3 linked regions of the Homo sapiens genome follow. The protein of the gene in region 1 interacts with the protein of each later gene in a biochemical or structural test. Each region holds a gene or a part of one and is shown in the gene's direction. Other genes may lie near its edges.

Region 1 (3,749 bases):
ACCCTTCCTCTCCCTCCTCTCTGTCTTCCTCCCTATCTGTCTTCCCCAGCCAAGGCTCTGCCTTTCCTTTGGGGTTTGCTGAGTAACCTCCGGGCCAAGAATAGGGCTTACTGGGGCTGGGTGGGGAGGGAGACTGGGGAGGAGGAGGAGGATCGAAGGGGGCCGTAGGGGAGGGGTTTCCTCTGCCTTTCTCACCAGTCTCTTTTCACACCCCCACTATGGGAGGCTGGAAGCAGTTGCCCCAGTTGATCCAGCAGTTCATGGCCTGTTCCCTCATCCCCATCCCCAAACTTTTCCTAAACTAGAAAATACCTTGGCTGGGCGCGGTGGCTCACGCCTGTAATCCCAGCACTTTGGGAGGCCAAGGTGGGTGGACCACCTGAGGTCAGGAGTTGGAGACCAGCCTGGCCAACATGGTGAAACCCGGTCTCTACTAAAAATACAAAAATTAGCTGGGCGGGGTGGCGGGCGGCGCCTGTAATCCCAGCTACTTGGGAGGCTGAGGCAGGAGAATCGCTTGAACCTGGGAGGCAGAGGTTGCTATGAGCCAAGATCGCGCCACTGCACTCCAGCCTGGGCGACAGAAACTCCATCTCAAAAAAAAAAAAAAAAAAAGAAAAGAAAACACCTTAATTCCTTTTCTCCCCACTACAGCCATTCCTACCCAGAATGAACTTCACTTTCCCTAACCAGCTGGGGAAGGGAGTTAAGGGTGGAAAACTAATAATAAAAATAAGTAGAAGAATCACTTAGGGGTTAAGAGCACAGTCTCTAGCTGGGTGGGTGTGGTGGCTCATGCCTGTGATCTCAACATATTGGGAGGCTGAGGCGTGAGGATCCCTTGAGCCCAGGAGTTCCAGCCTGCCGTGAGCCATGGTTGTGCTACTGCACTTCCGTCTGGGGGACAGAGTGAGACCCTGTCTCTTGGGGGAAGAAAAAAAAAAAGCACAGTCTCTGGAATGAGACAGCTTGAGTTTGAATCCCAGTCTGCAGCTATGTGACCTTGGGGCAAATTACTTAATCTCGGTGCCTCAGTTTCTCATCTATTAAACGGGTATAATAATAGTATAAGGTTGTGAGGTTTAAATGTCTTCATCTTTGTAAAGTGCTTTAGATAGCATCTGGTAAATAGCGCTGTTTTGTGGTTTTTTGTTGTTGTTGTTTTTGAGACAGAGTCTTACTCTGTCACCCAGGCTGGAGTGCAGTGGCGCAATCTCGGCACACTATAACCTCTGCCTCTCAGGTTCAAGCGATTCTCATGCCTCAACCTCCCAAGTAGCTGGGATTAGAGCCGTCCGGCACCATGCCTGGCCAATTTTTGTATTTTTAGTAGAAACGGGGTTTCACCATGTTGGCCAGGCTGGTCTCGAACTCCCGACCTCAAGTAATCAATCCACCTCGGCCTCCCAAAGTGCTGGGATTACAGGCGTGAGCCACTGCGCCCAGCCAGCACTCTTAGACGTATACATGATTGAGTGACCAGTGTATGCAGAATTGGTGCCACATGGCTTGACCTGGGTCATCTAATTTCCCACTATAATACTGGAATGGGTTCTAGAGTCACTCTGTCTTGTCTTACACCTGGCTCAGAGAGAGGAATTCACTTGCCCAAGGTTACACAGCGCTTAAATTAGGAGAGTCTGTGTGGGAATGCAGGGAGCTTAATGTTATTGCTGTTTTTCAAAGAATAACAGGAAACTGACATTCAGAAAGAGGGTGTTAACTGCCCATGGTCACACAGCCAAGAGGCAGCAGAGGCACTATCTGAGTCCAAAGCCTGTGCCTTTGATCCTTACTCTGCATTTTAGGGGCTCTTGCATTTGGGGCAAGGAAGGCCAGAGCAAACAGAGTGGTTCCCCTTGGTGCCAGCCTTAGTCGACTTGAGAGATGATGCTACATGAGAGAGGAATGTGGTTAGGACCTATTTTACAGAGGAGGAAACAAACCTAGGGGGAGAAACCACTTCCTCAAGGTCACACAGCTAAAAAGTATCACAGTCAGGGCTGGGCGTGGTGGCTCACACCTGTAATCCCAGCACTTTGGGAGGCCGAGGCGGGTGGATCACGAGGTCAGGAGATCGAGACCATCCTGGCCAACATGGTGAAACCCCATCTCTACTAAAAATACAAAAATTAGCTGGGCATGGTGGCATGAGCCTTTAGTCCCAGCTGCTCGGGAGGCTGAGGCAGGAGAATTGCTTGAACCCTGGAGGCGGAGGTTGCAGTGAGCAGAGATTGCGCCACTGCACTCCAAGCCTGGGTGACAGAGCGAGTCTCCGTCTCAAAAAAAAAAAAAAATTCATTTAAATAAATAAATAAATAAATAAATAAATAAATAAATAAATAAAAGGTATCAGAGACTGACTCCACCCCAGAGCTGTCAGCTCCAAAACTCCTAGAGTTGGGAGCACCAGCTCCCCTCACCTCTGCCAAACCCCTGATCGCCTCCCTTCATTTCTCCCTGCTAGAAATCTATGACAAGTTCAAGCAGAGTACACACAGCATATATATGTTCTTCAACACATCAGAGCTCCGAGAAGCGGTACCTGAACCCGTGTTGCTCTCCCGGGCAGAGCTGCGTCTGCTGAGGCTCAAGTTAAAAGTGGAGCAGCACGTGGAGCTGTACCAGGTGAGGACATGAGCCAGAAGGAAGGTCAGGGCATGGGCTGGAGAGGGTGAGCTGTGACCAAGGGGGTGGCTGTGGGTCGGCTGGTTACAAGGTCCACCTAGATGGTCCCTGAAGGATAGAAGAACACAAACCATACAATCCTAGAACGCTTTTTTTTTTTTTTTGAGACAGTGTCTCACTCTGTTGCCAAGCTGGAGTGCAGTGGTATGACCTCAGCTCACTGCAATCTCCGCCTCCTGGGTTCCAGTGATTCTCCTGCCTCAGCCTCCCAAGTAGCTGGGATTACAGGTGTGCGCCACCACGCCCAGCTAATTTTTGTATTTTTGGTAGAGATGGGGTTTTACCATGTTGGCCAGGATGGTCTCGATCTCCTGACCTCGTGATCCACCTGCCTCGGTCTCCCAAAGTGCTCAGATTACAGGCGTGAGCCACTGCGCCTGGCCTCTTTTTTTTTTTTTTTTTTTTTTGAGATGGAGTCTTGCTCTGTCGCCCAGGCTGGAGTACAATGGGGTGATCTCGGCTCACTGCAACCTCCGCCTCCTGGGTTCAAGTGATTCTCCTGCCTCAGCCACCCGAGTAGCTGGGATTACAGGCATGTGCCAACACGCTGGGCTAATTTTTGTATTTTTAGTAGAGACAGAGTTTTATCATGTTGGCCAGGCTTGTCTCAAACTCCTGCCCTCAAGTGATTCTCCTACCTGAGCCTCCCAGAGTGCTGGGATTACAGGTGTGAGCCACTGCACCCGGAACCTAGAGCACTTTTAAATGTTCAGACTCTTTGCATCCTAGGATGTTAAACACTTAGAAGGCTGGAATCTTAGGAGTTGGACTCTTTAAGGACACAGGATTCTTGAAAGTTGGAATCTCTGAAAAGGTTGGGGGCTCTAGAATCATTCTGTCCAATATGACAGCCACTAGTCACATTTAGCTTGATTAAAATTTAAATTGTTTAAAATTAAATTAAAAATTTAGGGCCAGGCATAGTGGCTCACACCTCTAATCCCAGAACTTTGGGAAGCCGAGGCAGGCAGATTGCTTGAGCCCAGGAGTCCGAGACCAGTCTGGGCAACATGTTGAAACTTCGTCTCTACAAAAAATACTAAAATTAGCCTGTTATGGTG
Region 2 (3,749 bases), on another chromosome or scaffold:
ACAGTCCGACAAGAGGCTGCACAGCACTGATTGGAAACTCAGATGGTTCTGGGGCCGGGCAGGAAACTCAAGTGAGTGGACAGCTTGGCAGGAGGCAGCAGGGAGTGGTGGGGACTGGGGTGACCCATGAGCCCACATTTTGGCAGAGGGAGCAACCGCCACTCAGCCCCAGCTGAGAGTTCCTGTTCAATGCAAGCTGGGAAGCCCCATTTTAATATGAAACCACCTGATTTTTCAATGTTAGCAGTGCCTTCAAAGTTGTAAAAACTCCCATAAAGCCTGCACTAAATGCACCCAAAGGCCAGCCCCAACCCAGGAACAGAGGTCCGCAAGCCATGCCCTAATCCATGTAGACCGAGAAACGTATGGGTTGTGGAGCCCTGCCAGCCCTGGAAAGGGGCCCTGTGGGGAGAGGGCCCTGTGGACGGGAGGTCCAGAAGGTGACTGTCCCAGCCAGGCCCTGCTTAGCCCTTGACGGCTAGACACAGAGGCCATCCTGCCTTCTGGAGATAACTGAGTCCTCCAGAGACTAGGAAACCCTCCAGCTGGTGTGGCCCAGCCTCCCAGGGATAAGCCTTCAGGCCCCCCAAAGACTAGAGCTAGCCCAGCCAAGGGCCTTGGCTACAGGCCGGGCTGGAGGGGGTGTGGGTGTCCCAAGGCTCTCCGGAAGTCAGGAGCTGAGCTGGGCCCCCAAAGGCTCTGAGGCATGACTGACCACAAACGCGGAGGGGGAGGAGGGCAGAGTGTTTTCCTGGAATCCTCCAAGGCAGGGGATTTTTCTGGACTAGTCCGGCCCCTGGCACCCGCCCCTCCTGCCCAATCAAGGGCCACTGTCAACTGCAGCCCAGGCCCCACCCACCGACGGTGACCACCCCTATGCCTCCACAGCTCAGGCTTGAAGCTGCCAGTAACTGTGGGGCCGTGGGCAGACCACCACTGCCCTCCCTGACACAGCCCCTTCATCTCATAATATGGTGGGGAAGAGAGTCCAGGGCTGCTCACAACTCTTAAGGCTGTCGTGGCTAAGAGGACCCTGAGCTCAGATTTGGCATTGGAGTTTATACTTAGGAGGCTCTTGAAAGGGCTTTGTGTGGGCTGCCAGGAGTTTTTTGAAATTGGGATTAGCTACCAACAATAACACATTGAGAGATTTCACCTAAAAATCTGGATTTCCAGTTTCTCTTCAAAAATCCAAAGCTCTAGCTGGCCCGGGCTGGTCATGAGGACTCAGCCCTTACCAGCCCCACTCCCGCCATCCTGCCTCTCCAGGGCCGCAGAGGCCCTGGGGTGGACTTCTGGCATTTGTCACCTGCCTGGTGCCTCATAGGCATCTGGGCTGTGACGCTTAGGATTCCTAAATAGTCTCTCGCTTTTTACACAAAAAGCAGAAACCTGCCCAGTGTCATCCGGCAAACCCACGACGGGCAAGGTCTCCCCGCGCAGGTCAGGTGGCCGCAGGGTGAGGGCCAGGGCAACCCGGCCCACGAGCCCCTCGGTGGGGAAGGGGCGTGTCTCCACGCGGCTCCGCCCCGGCCAATGGGGAGAGGCCCCGCCCCTGCCGCGGCGGGCCCGCCCCCCGGGACTCTTAAGGCGCGACCTGCCTCCAGCGAGCCGACTCCGGAGCCCGAGCCCGGGGCGGGTGGACGCGGACTCGAACGCAGTTGCTTCGGGACCCAGGACCCCCTCGGGCCCGACCCGCCAGGAAAGACTGAGGCCGCGGCCTGCCCCGCCCGGCTCCCTGCGCCGCCGCCGCCTCCCGGTGAGTTTCTGTGGGGCTGGGGGGCTGCGGGCGGGGAAGGGGGCGCCACGGCCAGGCTGTGCACACGCGCGGGGACCGCCGCCGCGCGCACACACGCACTCTCGGGCGGGACCGCGGCCCCAGCCCCACACGGTCACCTGGGCCGCCCGGCGGGCAGGCCCTGTACGCTCCCTCCCCCGCCGTCCTGGGGCGCCGACAGCCCCGCGGCCGGCCAGGGTGCGCGCCTGAGTGTGCGGTGAGCCCGCGAGGCTGCAAGCAGACAAAATAAACACCCCGTCCCATGCTTCCTCCTCCCACGGCTGGGCCTCCGGCATGACCAGTTTTATGAATCAAACCCCTTTGAGGGGGATAGCCAAGCCACAGGCTTGGGTCACTTTTCCCTCCTGGGGTCCGGCAGTAGGTGCTGCTGTGCAGAAGGGCTGCCCGGGGTCCTCTGGACCCTTGTCACTCAAAGCACAGCTGGGGGCTACAGATATGCAGCCCTAGGGAGGGGCGGGGAGTGGCTGGTGGGCGTCCGATGCCCATCCCTCCAGGTGGGGGATGGACCTGTACTGGCCAGGGCCCTTAGAGCTTCGGGTATCAGGCAGGGTGCCGGGTCTCTGCCTCTGCCAGGGAAGGGGCTTTGCTTGGGCTGCAAACCCAGTGGCCTGGAGCCAGCCTAGTCCTTTGTGTCCCTGGGCTGGCAGTGCTGGGGCCTGAGGACTGCTGAGGTCCCCTGTGGTCACTGGCAGGCCAGCCGATTGGTGCCAACCATTCTGCCTCTCCCCCATTCGTTAACGATTGCCACACCAGGGTCACTGACCGCCTCCCCTGCTGTGGCCCAGGGGTGGAGTGTGCAGGGTGGAAGGAAGAGGTCCTGGGGGTCTAGGTGTCCCCATGCCTGCCTTTTGCACCAAGGACAGGTGAGGCTCTGGAGAGAGGCAGCGGGACCTAGAGCCCCCTTCCCCAGGCTGAGAGCCTCCAGGGCTGGGGATTGGATAAAATCTCCAAGGTCCCTTCACACTAGACTGTACTTTGGGTGTTGAGGGCATAGAGGGGTGGCCGGGCTGGGACCTTCCAAGCAGGGTCCATTAGGGCCAGTCCAGGGGGCAGCAAAGTCCAGGATGGGCCCAGCTATTGACAAAAACCCAACAGAGCTGGGGCAGGCGGGTGGGGGATGGGGAGCAGTCCCCTGAGTTTACTCTCTTCTCCCAGGGGAGTTGGCCTGGAGCTTCTGTAAACAGAGTGTCAGAGGCAGGAAGAGGCTCTGGTGATGAGCAGCCCAGCTGGATCCCCTCCAGACCATTATCTAGCCTCCCCTGGGCCTGGGGAGGGAGGATGCGCACACACATGCCAGCCTGGGGGCCGGGCACTGCCTGTCCCCACCCCGCCCCTGTCTCCTGCACGTTGGAACAGCTGTCCTGCTACCTGTGGGTCCGGAGGGTCAGATGGGGATGGGGCTGGGGGCTGGGGTCCCAGGGCATTTGTCCAGATGGCACCTCTCTCTCCATATTCTGGGAATGGGAGAATGGGATTCAGCATAAGGAGCCTCTCAGACACTGCCCAGACCTGTGCTTACCCGAGGAAGGCCCCTCTGGCACGCAGCCCAGGGGCCAGGGAGATGGCAAGGGAGATGCCCCGGGCAGGAGATGGGTCCGCGGCTCCTAGCTCCCATTACTGTCACCCCCACTGACAGCCCCGGGGGAGCTGGGACAAGTCCCAAGTACAGAAAATTAAGTCCTTGCCTGGGCTTATAAGTGGGTCCCAACACAACACTGGGCAGCCTCTGGGAACAAGAAAGCAGGGCCCTGCTGAGCCCAGGAGGGAGCTCCCACCTCAGCAGGCCAGACAGCCAGTCCTGCCAGTGAGCAGAGGTGTGTAGAGGGGAGGCTGCCCACAGGGATGGCTATCCCTGACCACTGGCCAGCCCTGAGCTCATGGGAGGGCAGCAAGGCCACCTAACTCTGTTAGTGACCTCTCCTGGACCCCCCATCAGCTGCCCTTAGAGTCC
Region 3 (3,749 bases), on another chromosome or scaffold:
GTGGAATGAATGGATAAATATGGAATACATTTATCAAAACAATACTTGTTTTTTTACAAAATGCCCTGTTAGCAAAATGAGATCATATATACATCACATAAAAATCAGAATTTTCCATATGTGTTTATTAGCTTATTAAACATAATGTTTGAGAAACTAGGAAATTGATTTATTTTTTAAAGCCGATCTTGCTTATACCAAGTTGAGGTTTTCAATCTGCTTTTTTTATATCAGAAATTCGATACTGAAAAAAAGCTAATTTTGTGTTTTAAAAAATCAGACTGATTGCTTGGAACAAATGGAATAAATCGTCTTGTCAATAAAGTGATGGTCAATTGAGTCATTTGTGTGCAAAATATTGTGCAAGGCCCGGGTACAGAACAAGGAATAATAAGACACGCCCTGAAGGAGTACATCGTCTAGTGAGGGACAGACCAAGCACGCAAAACAAATTGCAATATAATGTGATAAGTTCTTTAAAAGAGGTAAGAGCAACGTGCTTTGGGAGCAGAGAAGAGGGAGAAAGCAGCATCTTGCCTGGATGAGCCAGGGGACACAGAAGAGAAGCCCACTATCTCATTTAATCTTTACAACTCTCTTGCAAGGTCGGTATTCTACATGGCAAGTAGCTTTGATTGTCAGGGTTCAGGTGAGGACTGGGAATGGAGTGACAATGAAAAGGAATGTGGCTAGAGCTATTAATTCATACCAATTTATGAGTGGTCTGACATACAGCACAGGGACTGTGGACAGTATTGATAAGCCATAGGAAGTTAATAAATGGTTTATAGTAGAAATTAATAAGACAAAATTGAATTTTTAGACGATGACTCAGGCAGCAAAATGGAAGATGGACTGAAATAGAGGAAATATGCAAGGCAGAGATGAATTAGAAGCTCTTGTAGTAGTTTAGGGAGAGATGAGAAGGGCCTGGATCAAAATAATTGTGGTAGGATGGAGAGATGTGACTGGCTTCCAGAGATATTTCTGAAGCAGAAATTGGAGATCTCCTATGTGGATAGAGATAATTTTATCTGACCATGTGTTAAGTGAGCATTGAAAAGCCCAACATGATTTATTACCATGACAATTTTGCAAATGATTTGGATATATAGTATATCATCTTAGTTTAGACCCAAAATTCAAACAAGCAGATTTAAATAATACTCAGATTTCTCATCCTAAGTAAATAGCTGTGCAAATGATACTATAATGTACCTGATTGTCTTTCAATACATTTTTAATGCTCTGCTTCCTGATAACAAATGAAATATTATTTTGCATCTTTTCTCTGTGCTCACTGTATTGTGGCATATTATATAAGAAACGACACACAGATTAGGCAGTGCTACTCTTCTTAAATCTCTCATTTGTTTCCTAGGTTCCCTGGTTGTGAAAATACATGAGATAAATCATGAAGGCCACTATCATCCTCCTTCTGCTTGCACAAGTTTCCTGGGCTGGACCGTTTCAACAGAGAGGCTTATTTGACTTTATGCTAGAAGATGAGGCTTCTGGGATAGGCCCAGAAGTTCCTGATGACCGCGACTTCGAGCCCTCCCTAGGCCCAGTGTGCCCCTTCCGCTGTCAATGCCATCTTCGAGTGGTCCAGTGTTCTGATTTGGGTGAGTGGGATGCAGTTTCTCTTTACCTACCTTACTTGTTTTATTCTTGGGAATGGCAACTCTGAGAGTTTAGCATTTTCAGTTTTAATCTCTCTAAATTTGAGAGACAGTGCCACCTAATGAGGAGTAAAGGAAGCAGAACAGGATAGAAAGAAAAGTAGCGTTGTTGTTCTCTCTTTCTCTCTCTCTCTCCCTCTCTGTCCCTCTTCCTTTTTTCCTCCATTACTTTGCAATCTTGGACAAATCATTTTTAAAAATATTTCTGAGCTTTATATCCCTTCTTCTACAAAATAAAATTTTGAATTAAAAAAGTCTTATGTTCTAAAATTTCAGAGTAATGGTTTAATCTTAATTCTATAATATGCTTTTATAAAATATTAGATATTAAGAAAATCAGGTCAGTCTCTCTACTATTCACTTAGCCCAGACAACAGAGTTTCAACATTACTAAATTGTAAAATAATCAGTTATCAAAAGCAAAACACATCAAATTTTATGACAAAATCTTATCTTTCAAGTATCAAAATACTCCCTTAATCTCTGAGTCTTAGTTTTGTCTTTACTTTTGACATTTTGTAATCCAGCTGCTTATATTCTTTAGAAAGTTTCAAAGGAAATATTTATCACTAAGGTATGGTGTAAATATTCAATATAATTGTGTTACATATATCTTTAGCCTAACACCCTAAAGACAGTTTGATTTATCATCTTTTCAGAAAAATTTGGTCTGGAAATTCCAAGAGCATTACACTTAGAAGATAAATCTCCAGAAAGATTGAAGCTCAGTGGATGGGCCAAAGGGGAATGAACTCAGTTTACATGGCAGCTCATTCACATTCCTCCTTTTGAAGGGGTGTATTTTCTTACTGGAGATGAAAAGAAAAAAAAATCTTTATATCATGATTCCGCCATGTGTACTTCCTTCTGGAAGAAATTCCATACTATGATCAGGCACTTCTTTCAGAAGTCCTATATTTACTCAGAACATGCTTTCTAGCAGTAGTTTGCAGAAGAAAAATGCAACTTCTACAATTGGAATAAACTGCCTATAGGAACCCAGAAAAAATATAAAGTATATTCAGTAGTAACGACTGAAAAACACTTGAAATAGCTTCTTCAACACATATATTGTATAGCTATTTAAAACCCAAATACAAATGTTATATGAAGACTTTCAAAAGGCCGCAGGATAATTCCAATGGATCTATTTGTTCAGTCATTCAGAAGCTATATCGGGAACCCATCATGGATGAGCTCTGCTCTAGGCATGGGGAGAAAGGATGAGGAAGACAAATATGGCCCTAGTTCTTGTGGATCTTATGTTCTAGTGGTGGTGACTATTACTTTTTGAATTGTGTATTTGCCACAGGGGAGATTGGATTACTCTTCAGAAATTTTATAAGCATCTAGAGATGACCTGCATTATTGCCTTGGGCAGGAAAATAACAGGGTTGAAAAAAATCTGAACAAAGAAATCACCATTTGATGGATATACACAGGATAATCTTTTCTGAAGTTACTAAAATGGCGAAGTTCCCAAAAAATGTAATGCGAATTAAATTTCACTTTGCCTCTGAGAAAAAGTTAAAAGAATTTATTATTACTCTCGCTACATGTATTATCAAAAATGAAGGGTTGATATTTTTAAGGAAAGAAGAGTTGGCCAGTCACTTTAGTGAAGTTTTATTTTTTCGTAAATATAGTTTGCCTTTGCTTCCATGAAAAAATAGCTCATAAACCTTGACCCTGATGAAAGCACTGGGCCAGTTTTCCAATTCTCTGTTATGTAAAAAGGCATAAGTCAATTGTTCAAAGTGAAACAACAACAACAACAACAAAATGTAGTCTTAGGAAGCAGCAAGTTCACTGACTTGGGATCTTTATGACAGTTTTGTTGTTGCCATTGATATTGTTTTGTTTATTTTTTGTTTTCAGATGAGAAAGTTTTCTACATGTTATCTTTTTTCTAGGAGCTCAAAGTGTACATCATTCCTTTATTATAGCTAGGTTTACTGACTCATATACTAAGGAAGTAGCTAAAATTATAAAAATAATTTGTTTTTAAAACCATATTTAACTAAGGGAACTAAGTAAGTTCCAATGAGCAGTGGTCTCATGCAAGGT

What was found.
Region 2: the proteins of TGFB1 (region 1) and VASN form a complex in vitro, tested with the Homo sapiens proteins (one study listed by BioGRID).
Region 3: the proteins of TGFB1 (region 1) and DCN form a complex in vitro, tested with the Homo sapiens proteins (3 studies listed by BioGRID).

Annotation. Positions count from the first base shown.
Region 1 is NC_000019.10:41,347,174-41,350,922, reverse strand, and holds part of TGFB1 (transforming growth factor beta-1 proprotein preproprotein), read left to right. Parts: intron 1-2,467; coding exon 2,468-2,628; intron 2,629-3,749. UniProt on the Homo sapiens protein: Transforming growth factor beta-1 proprotein: Precursor of the Latency-associated peptide (LAP) and Transforming growth factor beta-1 (TGF-beta-1) chains, which constitute the regulatory and active subunit of TGF-beta-1, respectively.
Region 2 is NC_000016.10:4,370,235-4,373,983, forward strand, and holds the start of VASN (vasorin precursor), read left to right. Parts: upstream 1-1,613; 5' UTR 1,614-1,759; intron 1,760-3,749. UniProt on the Homo sapiens protein: May act as an inhibitor of TGF-beta signaling.
Region 3 is NC_000012.12:91,176,218-91,179,966, reverse strand, and holds part of DCN (decorin isoform a preproprotein), read left to right. Parts: intron 1-487; exon of another isoform or gene 488-605; intron 606-1,320; exon of another isoform or gene 1,321-1,381; 5' UTR 1,382-1,414; coding exon 1,415-1,625; intron 1,626-3,749. UniProt on the Homo sapiens protein: May affect the rate of fibrils formation.